Homo sapiens: one gene and its partner. Each later gene encodes a partner of the first gene's protein in a complex. Each region holds a gene or a part of one and is shown on either strand. Other genes may lie near its edges. A codon is read from its position in the direction of its gene.

Evidence for each region.
Region 2: the proteins of H3Y2 (region 1) and TRIM33 are in contact, whole or in part, in a crystal structure (PDB 7ZDD), measured with the Homo sapiens proteins. Residues at the interface, in NP_001358848.1 of Homo sapiens: Ala2 (codon at 1,310), Arg3 (codon at 1,307), Thr4 (codon at 1,304), Lys5 (codon at 1,301), Gln6 (codon at 1,298), Thr7 (codon at 1,295), Ala8 (codon at 1,292), Arg9 (codon at 1,289); in NP_056990.3 of Homo sapiens: Asp884, Pro885, Asn886, Glu887, Asp888, Trp889, Gln894, Asn895, Gly896, Gly897, Asp898, Leu899, Leu900, Cys901, Glu903, Val908, Phe921, Pro922, Ser923, Gly924 (codon at 6,764), Trp926 (codon at 6,758).

What each region holds. Positions count from the first base shown.
Region 1 is NC_000005.10:17,490,456-17,496,088, forward strand, and holds H3Y2 (histone H3.X), read right to left. Parts: upstream 1,622-5,633; 5' UTR 1,314-1,621; coding exon 870-1,313; 3' UTR 512-869; downstream 1-511. UniProt on the Homo sapiens protein: Primate-specific variant histone H3, which constitutes a core component of nucleosomes. Nucleosomes wrap and compact DNA into chromatin, limiting DNA accessibility to the cellular machineries which require DNA as a template.
Region 2 is NC_000001.11:114,396,119-114,403,241, forward strand, and holds part of TRIM33 (E3 ubiquitin-protein ligase TRIM33), read right to left. Parts: intron 6,766-7,123; coding exon 6,642-6,765; intron 5,346-6,641; coding exon 5,271-5,345; intron 3,492-5,270; coding exon 3,339-3,491; intron 1,873-3,338; coding exon 1,822-1,872; intron 1,743-1,821; coding exon 1,530-1,742; 3' UTR 1-1,529. UniProt on the Homo sapiens protein: Acts as an E3 ubiquitin-protein ligase. Promotes SMAD4 ubiquitination, nuclear exclusion and degradation via the ubiquitin proteasome pathway. According to PubMed:16751102, does not promote a decrease in the level of endogenous SMAD4.

The DNA of each region.
Region 1 (5,633 bases):
TTATTCCCTCAGGAACAGGATTACTTTTCTAGTCTTGGGCTGGAAATCACATAATTTTTTGGTACTTGATAAAAATGTGGCTCTTAAACTTGAATGTGCAGGCAGGCTTTCTCAGGGGCATCTCTTTTTCAAATCTCACACATGTCCAGAGCCTCTTCTACAACCTTTGTGTCCAAGGCCTTGACCATTCCAGCCATGACATTGACCACATTCCGGAATTTAGACCACCAGGGATGGACTGCATCAGACGCCCAATGGGTGCCTCTGACTCCCTTCAACACACAGATATACCACACTGGATTTTACCCACACTGCCTTTCATAGTGTGCATTGACTTGTAAATAGAGAATCTATTTAAATTGTAGAAAATGAAGTTTAATGTATTTTCATAGGAAACTAGCGGAAACATCACAGGAGACAGGGAACATTGAAAACACAGAGTTGCATACATAAAACCTCCAAGTATACCTGGAATCTATTGTTTCATAAAATGCAATAAACATCTTTTAGCTCAGATTAATAAGAAATTTATTTTGTTTACAGAACCCGTATGCAGACATAGTAAAGAAAAAAAAATAAGATTTCTTTATAATTTTATAGAGTTGAACTGAAACTCGCTCACAGAGACATTTCCACTTGACACTAGTACCTTGGGAGCCTCAAAGTAGATGAGACGTTTACTAACAAGCACACACAAACACAACTGCCACCTGATTTCTGCCTGCGTTTCCACTGGCAATCTTATGCTTAGCTACCTTTGGACCCCCGGAGGGAAAAGAAACCAAAACAGAACAAAACTTCTCACATCAGAACTACCAGTTACGGGGGAAGAGAAAAAAGAAAACACAAGCAAACAGAAAAGAAGTCCTCTAGAGTGCAAGGTTTCCCAGGAGCGTGGGCTCTCCGGCACCCTCTCCACGGAGGCGGCGGGCCAGCTGCATGTCTCGGGGCATAATTGTGACGCGCCTGGCATGGATGGCACACAGGTTGGTGTCTTCAAAGAGTTGCACCAGGTAGGCCTCGCTGGCCTCCTGCAGGGCGCCAATGGCCGCGCTCTGGAAGCGCAGGTCCGGGCTGATGGCCTGGGCGATCTCACGCACCAGACGCTGGAAGGGCAGCTTGCGCAGGAGCAGCTGCGTGGACTTCTGGTACTTTCTGATTTCCCGCAGCGCCAGGGTGCCAGGCTTGTAGCGGTGAGGCTTCTTGATCCCTCCTGTAGGCGACGCCCTTTTTCTGGCGGCTTTGGTGGCCAGGGGCTTCCTGGGGGCCTGCCAGGCGGTGGCTTTGCGGGCGGTCTGCTTGGTGCGCGCCATGTTGTGGGGCCTTGTGCTCTCTCCTCTCTGAGGCTGAGCCTGGCCTGCTGCAGGCAGTACTGGCGTCAGAAAACAAGGGCAGTGGTGCTGTGGACAGGATTCAGAGAGCCTGTGAGTTGAGATCCATGCGCAGGACTCTCCCACACACTTAACCCCTGCCAACCCAACCCCACACTTACCAGCTCTCAGGTCTGTGGGTCGGAGGCCGGGCTGCTTAGTCTTCCCGGAAGGTCTTGGGTTTCCTTGGTCTACCCAGCAGCAGCCAGGAGTCTCCCTCGCAGGCAGTCTGTTTCTGACTGGAGATCTCTGTGGTCTCAGTAAAGCCCTGCCTCTTATAAGGAGCTCAGATGATTGCATTAGACTCACCCAGCTCCCTTCCATTGTACTCACTGCTTCACTAGACTCTCAACCTCGTCAGCGCTGTGAAAACCCAATTTGAGTCCCTGGGTTCTGCACACACCCCAGAGAGGGAGGAACCTCTGCCGTGTGCATCGTGGGAGGGATGGTAGGTGTGAGTTAGAAAAAATTCTGGGTGCCAAGGAGATTCTGAAAGTTTACATTTCACGACCATCATGGAAGTCATTACAATGAAAAAGACATTTGAATAAAGTTGTATGTTACCCGACATCGGTGACTGCTGCAAAACACCAAGGGTGCGATCATGAGGTGTCTCTCAGGTTCCCTGAGGATGAGGTGAAACGGGGAGGGAAATATGGAAAACCTAAATGATCACTCCTCTAACAGGGATGCTCCTGGGGGCATTTTTCTCCCCCAAAGTGACATTCATGGGAATCTGCGGTAGCCTTCAGGCAAAGTTGTGGCTTTTTGATCAAATGGTCCTATGTGCCTGTCACTGAGGCTCTCTGGCTCTTTTTTTTTTTTTTTTAACCTTGGTACCAGTAACAGTATATTGTTAACTATAGTCACCACGTTGTACAATAATTCTTGAGCTTGTTCCCCCATGTAACTGACGTGTTGTGTGTTTTGACCAACATCTCCTCAAATTCCCCATCCCCAGCCACCACAGCCCCAGACGACCATCTTTCTTATATTTTTGCGTCTATCAGATTAACTTTGTGAGATTCCAGGTATCATGGAGACCATGTAGTGTTTGTATTCTTATGCCTGGCTTATTTCACTTAGCATGATGTTCTCCAAGTGCACCCATGTGTACACAAAGGACAAGATTTCCTTCTTTAAGGCTGCATAGTATTCCCTTGTGTATGTATATCGGATTTTCCTCATCCTGTTATCTGCTTTTTGACATTTAGGTGGATTCCCTATCTTAGGTCTTGTAAATAGCACTGCAATGAACAGGGGAGTATAGATATCTCTTCAATAGACTGATTTCATTTCCTTTTCATATACACTTCCCAGTGTGGGATTGCTGGATCATATGGTAGCTGTATTTATGTAGTTTTTGGAGGAAGTTCCATACTGTTTTCTAGAATGGCTCCCTAATTTACATTCCCAGGAATAATACAAGGGTTCGCTTTCCTCCACATCCTCAACAAGTGTTGTCCTTTGATGTTTTGATTGCAGCCATTCTAAAGAGTGTGAGGTGATGCCTTCTTTTAGTTTTTATATGCATTTCTCTGAAGATTGGTGACATGGAGCATATATATATATATACATGCCTGCTGGCCACTTGTATATCTTCTCTCCTGAGATGTCTATTATTTAGGTCCTTTGCCCAGTTTTAAAATTGTGTTGTTTCTTGCTGTTGAGTCCTTTGAGTTCATGGTATATTTTGAACAGTAACTAATTAATGCCTTATTGGATATAGTGTTTGCAAGTATTTTTTCTCACGATGATTTTGTCTCTTCATGGTGTTAATTATTTCTTTTACTGTGCAGAATTTTTTTTTCATTTGGATGCAATCCATTTGTCTATTTTCCCTTTTGCTGCCCATGTGTTTGGGACATATTTCAAAAATTATTGGCTTAACCAATGTCAATGAGGATGTCCCCTGTTTTCTTCTAGTAGGCTCATAGTTTAAAGTTTTGACTATATTTTGGTTGATTCTTGTGTATGGCAAGAGATTAGGGCCCAATTTCATTTTCCTGCCTGTAGATACCCAGTTTCCTATCACCACTGATGGAAGAGACTGTCCTTTTGTCATTGTGTGTTGTTGGCACGTTTGTAAAAATGTAATTGGCTGTACACATTTGGAGGGATTTCTGGGCTCTCTGCTCTGTTCCATTGGCTTTGATTTCTGTTTTGATGCCATTCTTATGCCATTTTTGTTCCTACAGCTTGATAGAATACTTTGAAGCAAGGAAGGCATGGATTTTTTTATTTTCTCTATGGTTTGCCCTATGACAGCACCACTCAGACAGATGTCAAAGAGATATAGATTTTTTTGCTTTTTCAGCTTTTTACTGATTGTTAAGACAGAGTAATGACATGGAATCTTTTTTTATGGGCCATCCTGAAAACTGGAACTCCATTTTATTGTTGCTATACATTTGTTACAGTTTATCTTATATTCAAGATATATGATCAATTACTTGTTCATATAATGACAAATAGGGTTCAGTTATACAAAATATTTAATGTTCAAATCCTACAGAGAGAGCAAATTTTGTTTTTAATTTCTGTATTTCTTAATCATTTGAAAAATAAAGTAAAAATGGAATATTATCTAAAATAAAATATATTATTATTATATGCATTTCCATTTTAGAGAAGGACAAAACAGAGATCAGTATGTTATTTCAGTCATAAACAAAGGTTACCTTGGGACCAGTTCTTTGGAGGTGAAGGTGTGGAAATGAATGCAGAAGTTAGACAGGGTTTCTTTGGTCTGCGTTTCTCTGTCTAGATTTCCATATGGCTCCTAGAGTGTGTTACCATTCTAACATCCTCAAAGATTGCTCTCTGACATGAAGCAATTTGGGCCAGAACGTGAAAAAAATCATTGTAGAGGAAAATCTGGTATTTAATTTAATTTTTATTTTTGCAAGTTCAAAACTGTTGATTCCCTGGGCAAAGTTATGAAAAGTATAAATGTTTATAAGGGGAACTATTCCAATGCTTTTAGAAAGCCAGGGCCTTCAGGAAAAAGTATTATAAGGGACGACTCTGTTGTATCTCCTACAAATCATATAGGAGCAAAAACATCCTAAGTCATAGCAACTTCAGAATTCAGTGTGATTTCATCACAGTCTCTGAAAAGAGTTTCTTTTCTCTTTGTAAAAACAGCTCCCCATTCACAGGATTCTCGAGGCTAATGCACCATTCTTCTCTCAACCAGGAAGCACCAGAACAATGCCTGAGCATGCGTGGACCTCAGAGCTCCAAATATGATGGTGATGATTGTTACTAATTTTGAGACAGGGTCTCACTCTGTTGGCCAGGTGTGAGGGCAGTGGCGCCATCTCTGCTTACTGCAACCTCCACCTCTGAAGCGCAAGCAATTCTCCTACCACACACTCCAGAATGAGTAGGTGAAACAGCAGGAACTAGTGACCACGCCCAGCTAATTTTTTTTTTTTTTTTTTTTTAAAGAGAGGCAGTCTGGAACTCTAGTTCAAGTGATTTGCCAGGTCGGCCACCCAAAATGCTGGGATAACAGGAATAAGCCACTGTGCACGGTCTGAGATACAAATATGATTGAAAGGGATGATCAAACAGGCTGCTGCCTTCATCTGGGTGTAACCAATGTAAGATGTAAGAAAGATGTTAAATCACGGGTAAGTCCAGGATGGGCTGAGATACTGAAGCTCCAGCATAGAAAGTGTGCTCTCATAGAAAGACTAGAAGCAGTACTTTCTCCTCTAAAATCAGGCCTTTCTATCTGGGCTGGGATCTGGAGGAAGATGGGGTTTTTTTTTTTTTTCTCGATGTTGGGGTAATGGGCCCTGGGCTGTCCCCTGTGAAAGGCTTGGGCTGCAGCAGGTGCGTGTCTCCCCACATCTCACACATCTCCAGTGCCTCTCCTACCAGCTCCCAGACCAAGACCTGGGTCATTCCAGCCATGGCTACGGCCATGACCACGTTCTAGGACACTGAACTGCTGGTGATGGACTGCATCGGACTTCTAAAGGCTGCCTCTCTCCCTTTTCCACCCACAAACAGACCTACACTGGTTTTTCTGCCTCCCGTAATGTGAAGCGACTGTGGATAAAGAGTATTTTCACATTTTAGAAAGTAGAGATCAATGTTTGTTCATAGCAAACCAGCAGGAGCAGTCTGTGAAACACGGAGCTGCATATAGAAAAAGTTAAAGTGTGGATCCCATCTACTGTTTGATCAATTGCAGGAGACACTGTCTATTTGGCACCTATACGTTTACTTGGTTTTCAATAATATTAAGGA
Region 2 (7,123 bases), on another chromosome or scaffold:
TCTGAATATTCTAATGTGTCCATACAAAAGTAGGACTAAAATCTTTAATCAAACAAAAGAGAAGCCTGTAACAGTGTAGAACACACATTTTGAATCTGAGCATCACAAATGAAGAAAAGAAAAATGAACCAGAGCCAAGTTGGTTTATCGGCCTCGGGTGCTGTAATTGGGGTGGTAAAGGTGGGTTTACTCCAGTAACCATTCAAGTGGGGATTGGCTCATTTTCAGGATTTACTTACAGGTCTCTTCTAAGTCCTTTAAGCCCCCAGTCCATGCAAATGTCCCACTTGGTGGACAGATGAGTAATCTAACCCCACCGGGTTTATTTCAATATTTCGATATTTCAATAATAAGCTGCTTCTGAAGATTTTTTGAGAAGTCTGTTCTCTATTAAAATAAGATAGAACCTCAAAATATGAATGTGAACATTAGAAATAGACAGCATATATTACAAATCCATTCTTGATAGGAACATTAGTAAGAATACACATTAGCTTAAAAAACAGGCTCAGCAAATGTTGCTGATCTGCCAAAAGTTTTAGTTCACTATTTACAAATAAGACAAAGTGAAATACAGAAAATTTTACACATTTGGTAGTTGACAGATACTGTTTGCCAATAGTGGTCTATCAGAAAACTGACATGAAGGAAGACTGGAAAAGAGCCAGTTGTCACCTTCTCAAATTTAAATGTACAGAAAACTAGATTAATTTTGAAACAAACATTCTGCCTTTCATGGGAATAACTGTATGATCACATGATTTGATTGGGAAGTACAATTGTGAGGAAGTGTTTTCTGGAAACAACTACTATAACTCTAAATAATCCACTAATGAAAAGTTACCATTTTTGTTTCAGTAGACCATTGAAGTTGATTAAATGATAACTAGTGGTAGTGTTTCCTAAACCCTAAGTATGAGTAGAAAATAAAACCATTGCTGAGTTCTTTATATCAATTTAAAAACTAAGACCCAACAGCATAAAAATGAGAAAAAACATAATGGCATGATTCAATGCAAATCTGCACTGACATTAAAGTAGAATCTGAGCTACTTGGGTTTTTAACTAGAAAACAACCTGATATGTATGTGTGTGAAGGGGGAGGGTTAAAAGTTGTTTTAATAACTGTGCGACCTAGTCCAAAAAGAAAATTTATCAAGTGACACGAGTCTCAAGTATTTACTCGTATACCAAGTATCCTGCACCAATCAATAGCACACAATCATCAATATTTGCCATTTCTAACAATCAGAGAATCATCTCCATTAGAACAGAAATCCTCAAATCATTTCACTTTTGCTTTTTGCTTTGAAACTTGCAAACAGACTTCTCTCCCCCTTTCTTGACAAGAATGTGTTTCTGTCCATTATTTCAATCTAATACTGTGTAAAAGCTATCAGCTTCTTCAAGGAGGTGCCCACTGTAGGCAGGATATTCCAGCAACACTTAAAAGTTTTCTGGGTTTTTTGTGTTTTTTTTTTTTTTTTCGTTTTTTTTTTTTTAAACAATTGATTTAAATCCATGTCATTTTACTTTATATGTACTGGTCTCTCATCTGACTTTAGGCGTTTTCTGCGGGGCTGTATAAAGTCTTCATCAGAGTCCTCAGTTACCTCACCATCATCCTCTTCCTGCTCAAACTCTGGCAAAGGTGCGAAGGTCCTGTCTGAGTAGATCTCTGTGAGTTTATCTTCAAAGTACAATGCAACTGCTTTCCCTGCCTGAGCTACTTCTGAATCAGCCTGCAAGCAAAAGATAGGAATATTCACCTATTGGTAATGCATATTCCTTCACCAAGTTTGCATGGTCTGAAAAGCTTACCTTCAAATTAATCTCTTGTGTGTCTGCATAAACTTGAACAACTTTCATCATCTAAAAAGGATACCAGAGTCAAAAAAAAAAAAGGGAAATTATAATCCTTTCTAAAGTTATGAGACTGCATAGGATTGGCGACGAAAAGTCAGCCATACTAGGGAGAACAAATTGCTATAACCAGATAAAGTGCTTTTCTAAAATTCTACAGAACATGGAACCATTTTCTTTACAAAGCCCTGTTACTAAAGCTACTGTGAAACCTCAGTAATTGTCTTATTTTGAATTATCAAGGTCAATCTGAATAGGAATTGGTCTGAACACATCAATCTATCCAAGAGAAAAATATTTGTGAAGCATATTATACAAGAAACGTTGCTTTAAAAAACTGACAAACTTTCAACAAACCACTTAATAAAAATTCTATCTGTATAGCAATATGTTAATCATAAACTATTTATTACTGAGGCAGGAAACATGGGTCTTCTTATCAACTATAGTTCATGAAAGCATATTTATTTGAAAATAATTTAACTGCACTGAAAAATAAGACAGAATTTGGGACTAAATATAACTTCAAACTAGTGAGATTTTACTAATATACTCTGTGCCATACTGCTATAAAGGTGACTTAGAATTTTCACCTTATGAGGATTTTGTTTTGTTTTTGATTTTAAAATGCCATCTGGATGCTTCCAGAGGCAGCTATAGGAATACGTTACAGGATCCAATGTGATTTATTTTAGTAATAATCATATGGCACCCAAATTACACCAGCAATAAAGAGACTTTAGTATTAATCTTTTAAAAGATTTTGTGGATTCTCATTAAATTCCATTTTCTTCTCCTACAATGAAACTCTTCCATAACAATAATAGAATCGATTTTATCCCTAATAAAAACAATTTCCCTGAAACAGGTATATAATACATTTCTTCTCAAGGCATGGCTAACTCAAACTTACCCTCAAAAAAAAAAAAAAAAACAAAACAAAACAAAACAAAAAACAAAAAACTCCCCAAACCAAAAAACATAACCAAAATTAATCAAAGTCACACTGCTGAAATAAGAAAACTTAGTATTATATACTCTGGGCTACTATTCAAGATGGGTCACCAGAGATTAGTTTGTTATTTTAAGGTTCTACATTCATGTTGTCAATAATAAAATGCAAGGACATGGGTACAGATAACTTTCCTAATAGTACCCAAAACGTAAGCTGTTTATAATCATATTCCACAAAATATACGTAACTACTGACAGTACTTTCCATACTTATGCCAATCCTCAACTCATTTAGAAAAGGATATTTGATAATATTCTTAATTTATTATATTTAAGTATATACTCCAAATTATACACAATAAATTTTCTTCACTGGAGCTGTTAATACAATCAGATGTTACTTTTGACAGGACTTTAGCAGAAAAAAAAATTTTAATAAAATTAAAGTCAGCAGAAAAATAAAACAAGGAAACAAACAAAAACTAACAAATCAAGACTCTATAGGTTGGAAGTTAACATACTTCATTAAACCTTTCACAGTTCTTGAAGATCAAACGGACATCGGCCACAAAGTCATCCGGGATTTGGTAGTGTTGGGAATGTTTTTTCTGAAGCTTCTTTTTCACGGTGGATAAATCCATTGGTTTCTTTATAATTTTATAGTAGTTTGGTATCTAAAATAAGCACATAATGGCAAATAAGAATTCTCCAAAAATGCCAAACTGTTTAATTTGAAAATGCATAGCATATTAATTTTAGGGAAAAAAATTATTATAGAGCCAGCTGCTTGCAAATTTTGAGTATAGACGTATGTACTTTACATCTTCATGAAAACCAAATCTTATGTGGCATATGTGCCAATCTTCATGGTTAGTCCAAGTCCCCAAAGTCCTACTTTTAATAATAAGATTTGGAAAGAAAGCAATTAGCAAGGGTAACCAACCAGTAGCCTTGAGGCAACATTTGACTTACCAGAATTTTATGACTCCTTAGGAGTTTTTCTTTTTTTTTTAAAGAAAAAAATTTACAAAATATATTAATGTTACAATTAGAATATGATGTCTTTTGGAAAACATAACAGGGAATATCATTTACATCACGAAGTCTTGACTTAGTAACAGAGGAAGTAAGACTAAGAACATAAGAAAAATTTACTAACTTTATTAACCATTTAGTGTTCACGCTAGGGAATTCTGACCCCAACTCTGGCGAAAAATTTCTACCCTTGGGATAAAAGTAAAGTTAGAGAAGCTATTTTATTGACTGATTGACTAATTGATTTTTGAGATGGAGTCTTGCTCTGTCGCCCAGGCTGGAGTGCAGTGGTGCAGTGGCGCCAACTGTGGCTCATTGCCACCTCCATCCCCTGGCAATTATCCTGCCTCAGCCTCCCTAGCAGTTGGGATTACAGGCATGCACTACCACGCCCGGCTAATTTTTATATTTTCAGTAGAGAGGGGGTTTCACCATGTTGGCCAGGCTGGTCTTGAACTCCTGAACTCAAGTGATCTGCCTGCCAGGCCTCCCAAAATGATGGGATTACAGGCATGAGCCACCATGCCCGGCCAAGAAGCTACTTTAATAGTCCATAAAAAGAAAACATTTGAAAGTCATTTTCTACTTTAAAATCCCTGCACTTAAAGATGAGACAAATTTTCCAGAAACAGATGATTACTGCTTGTACAAAACATCTTCCTTCTGTCTATACCTTTTGTGATTTAAAATTCATTTCTCAGGCTACCCAGTAAACAAGTCAACTACCATTTAATATTCTCTAACAGGCCTGGTATGTAATAATGTACTATTCAACAACTGATGGCTAGCAATAAAATGTGTGTAGAATATTCTTACCCCACTTATTAGGCACCAAACACCTCTAATCTTCCTTTTATTGCAGCATTTTAGAGCCTTTATTCCTTACAAAACTCAATGACTATAGACTATGCTAAATATTTTACATAGGTTATTTTATATAATCCTCAGAACAACCCAATGAGGTAAAAAATCGTGTCAGAAAACTTGAGTCTTAGAGAGGTTGAAGAGCTTATTCCAGAAGGCTGAGGTGTAATACAACTTAGTCTAAGGCCATACTCTTTTTTTTTTTTTTCTTTTTTTTTTTGAGACGGAGTCTCGCTCTGTCGCCCAGGCTGGAGTGCAGTGGCGCGATCTCGGCTCACTGCAAGCTCCGCCTCCCGGGTTCATGCCATTCTCCTGCCTCAGCCTCCGGAGTAGCTGGGACTACAGGTGCCCGCCACCGTGCCCGGCTAGTTTTTTGTATTTTTAGTAGACACGGGGTTTCACCGTGGTCTCTATTTCCTGACCTCGTGATCCGCCTGCCTCGGCCTCCCAAAGTGCTGGGATTACAGGCGTGAGCCACCGCGCCCGGCCGCCAGAGCCCATACTCTTAAGTATTATGAGACTTCCCCACCGAGCTACTAAGGTAGGCAACTCACCGAAGCAGGAACAGGCTCCTGGAATTCAATACTTAATTCATGGCAATAGAGGTAAAGCAGAAGACGTTCACATTTCTGGCCCAAACAAGGAAAGGAAAGCACATGAAATATTTTTCTCCTAATAAAACATTCTCGAGAATGAGAACTATATCACAACAAAGTTTGATTACAACAAACTGAACACAAGCCCCCTGTTTACTAGATACTCAACTAAACATAAACACCCAAAGAAAATTCCCTTGCTTCTCATTTTGTTTTCAGACTATCTTTTGTTCTACTTTAAGTAAGAATGGAAGATAACTAAGGTAATTTATGGAAGGGAGTCACAAAAGCAACATCTAACACTTTGTGCAAAAATTTATAAATTACTTGGTAATAAATAAATAAGTAAATAAATTATCACTGTTGCTCCTCATGGTAATTCCTTAGACAGGCAAGACAAATGTTGAAAGTTATCATCCCCTTTCTTCAAATGATTCCAGTCAGGTTCAAAATGAAAATGGCCTTCTCAGTCTAACTCCAAAAATATTTTTTTACCCAATCATGAGTAAACTGAAATGCATTTTACATTCACAGTCTTCTATTTATCTAAACTTCTTTTAATACAAGTTTGTATACCCTAAACACGTATCTTGTCTTCACAGATAGTGGATGAGGGTTTTTACCAGTATATACACCAGAGTAGAGCCAAACTTAACTCTAATGACCACACGACAATGCAAAAGAGTCTGTCTTTGGCAATCAGACTACAGGCCAGATTGGTAAAAATCTGAGTAAAGTAAGGAGAGAGTTTCCATTTTTAATATGATGAGAAGCTATTAGAGGATTTTAAGCAAGGAAATGATAGACTTGTTTACTTTTTTAAAAAGAACACTGTTTAATACAGAAAACAAACTATAAAGGTCAAGAGCAGAAGCGGGGAGAGCAGTTAAGAGATCACTACAATAGTCCAGATGAGAAATTATGATGTAAGGTAAGAAAATCATATTATAGTTATTATTATTTCATTTCTAATAGGTTTCTAACCTGAGCAACAGAAATGAATGGTGGTATCATTCAATTAAGGGGAATACTGGGGGAGGAATACAGTTTTTTATGTCGTTATTTGCTTGGTTTTGTGCTTGGAGGGAGAGGATTAGAAATTAAGATTTTAGTTGGGACATGTTAAGTTTGAGGAATCTGGATAGAAGGGTCTGTAGTTCAGGGTTAGAGGAAAAAAAGACTTCAGAAATCATCAATATACCATCAGATGACAGGATTAAAAATTAAATGTTATCAGGTTTTGTGTATGCTACACAGGAAAAAAAAAGGTGTATATATAGGCAGACAACTACTGAATCCCAGTGACAAATCAACTTATTTGACACTTACCCTTTGGTCCACGGGGCTTAACCCCTGCGCAGTTTTCCCCTTCTTACTATGTTGCAAATTATCACAATCATATTCAACTTCTGGCTTTCCAATATCTCTACAAAATGTGCATATCCAGTCCCCACTAGACAGGGAAATAGGCAATTAGTCCACGTAATTATAAGAAAGCCTGCTCTAGAGAAGCTACTTCCCTGGACTGGGGCCTGGTTTATTTTCTTAATAATTTTTTGAAAAAAGGGAGGTTTTATAGTTGTGAAATCTCGTCAGGTGAAGTCATGTGATTAAAAACTCCTCTAAATTTTCCTAGTCACGCATCAATTGATTACTTTCTGGAATGCATTATAAAAATGGCACCTCCGCATTAAAAGGGGGTCTCTTAGTAGTGATGAGCAGTACTTGCAGCATAAGGCCTAAGACCAATTCTCTCAGATCCCAGTATCACCATTATGTGGACTCAGTTATTTATGAAGAAGAAGAGCACA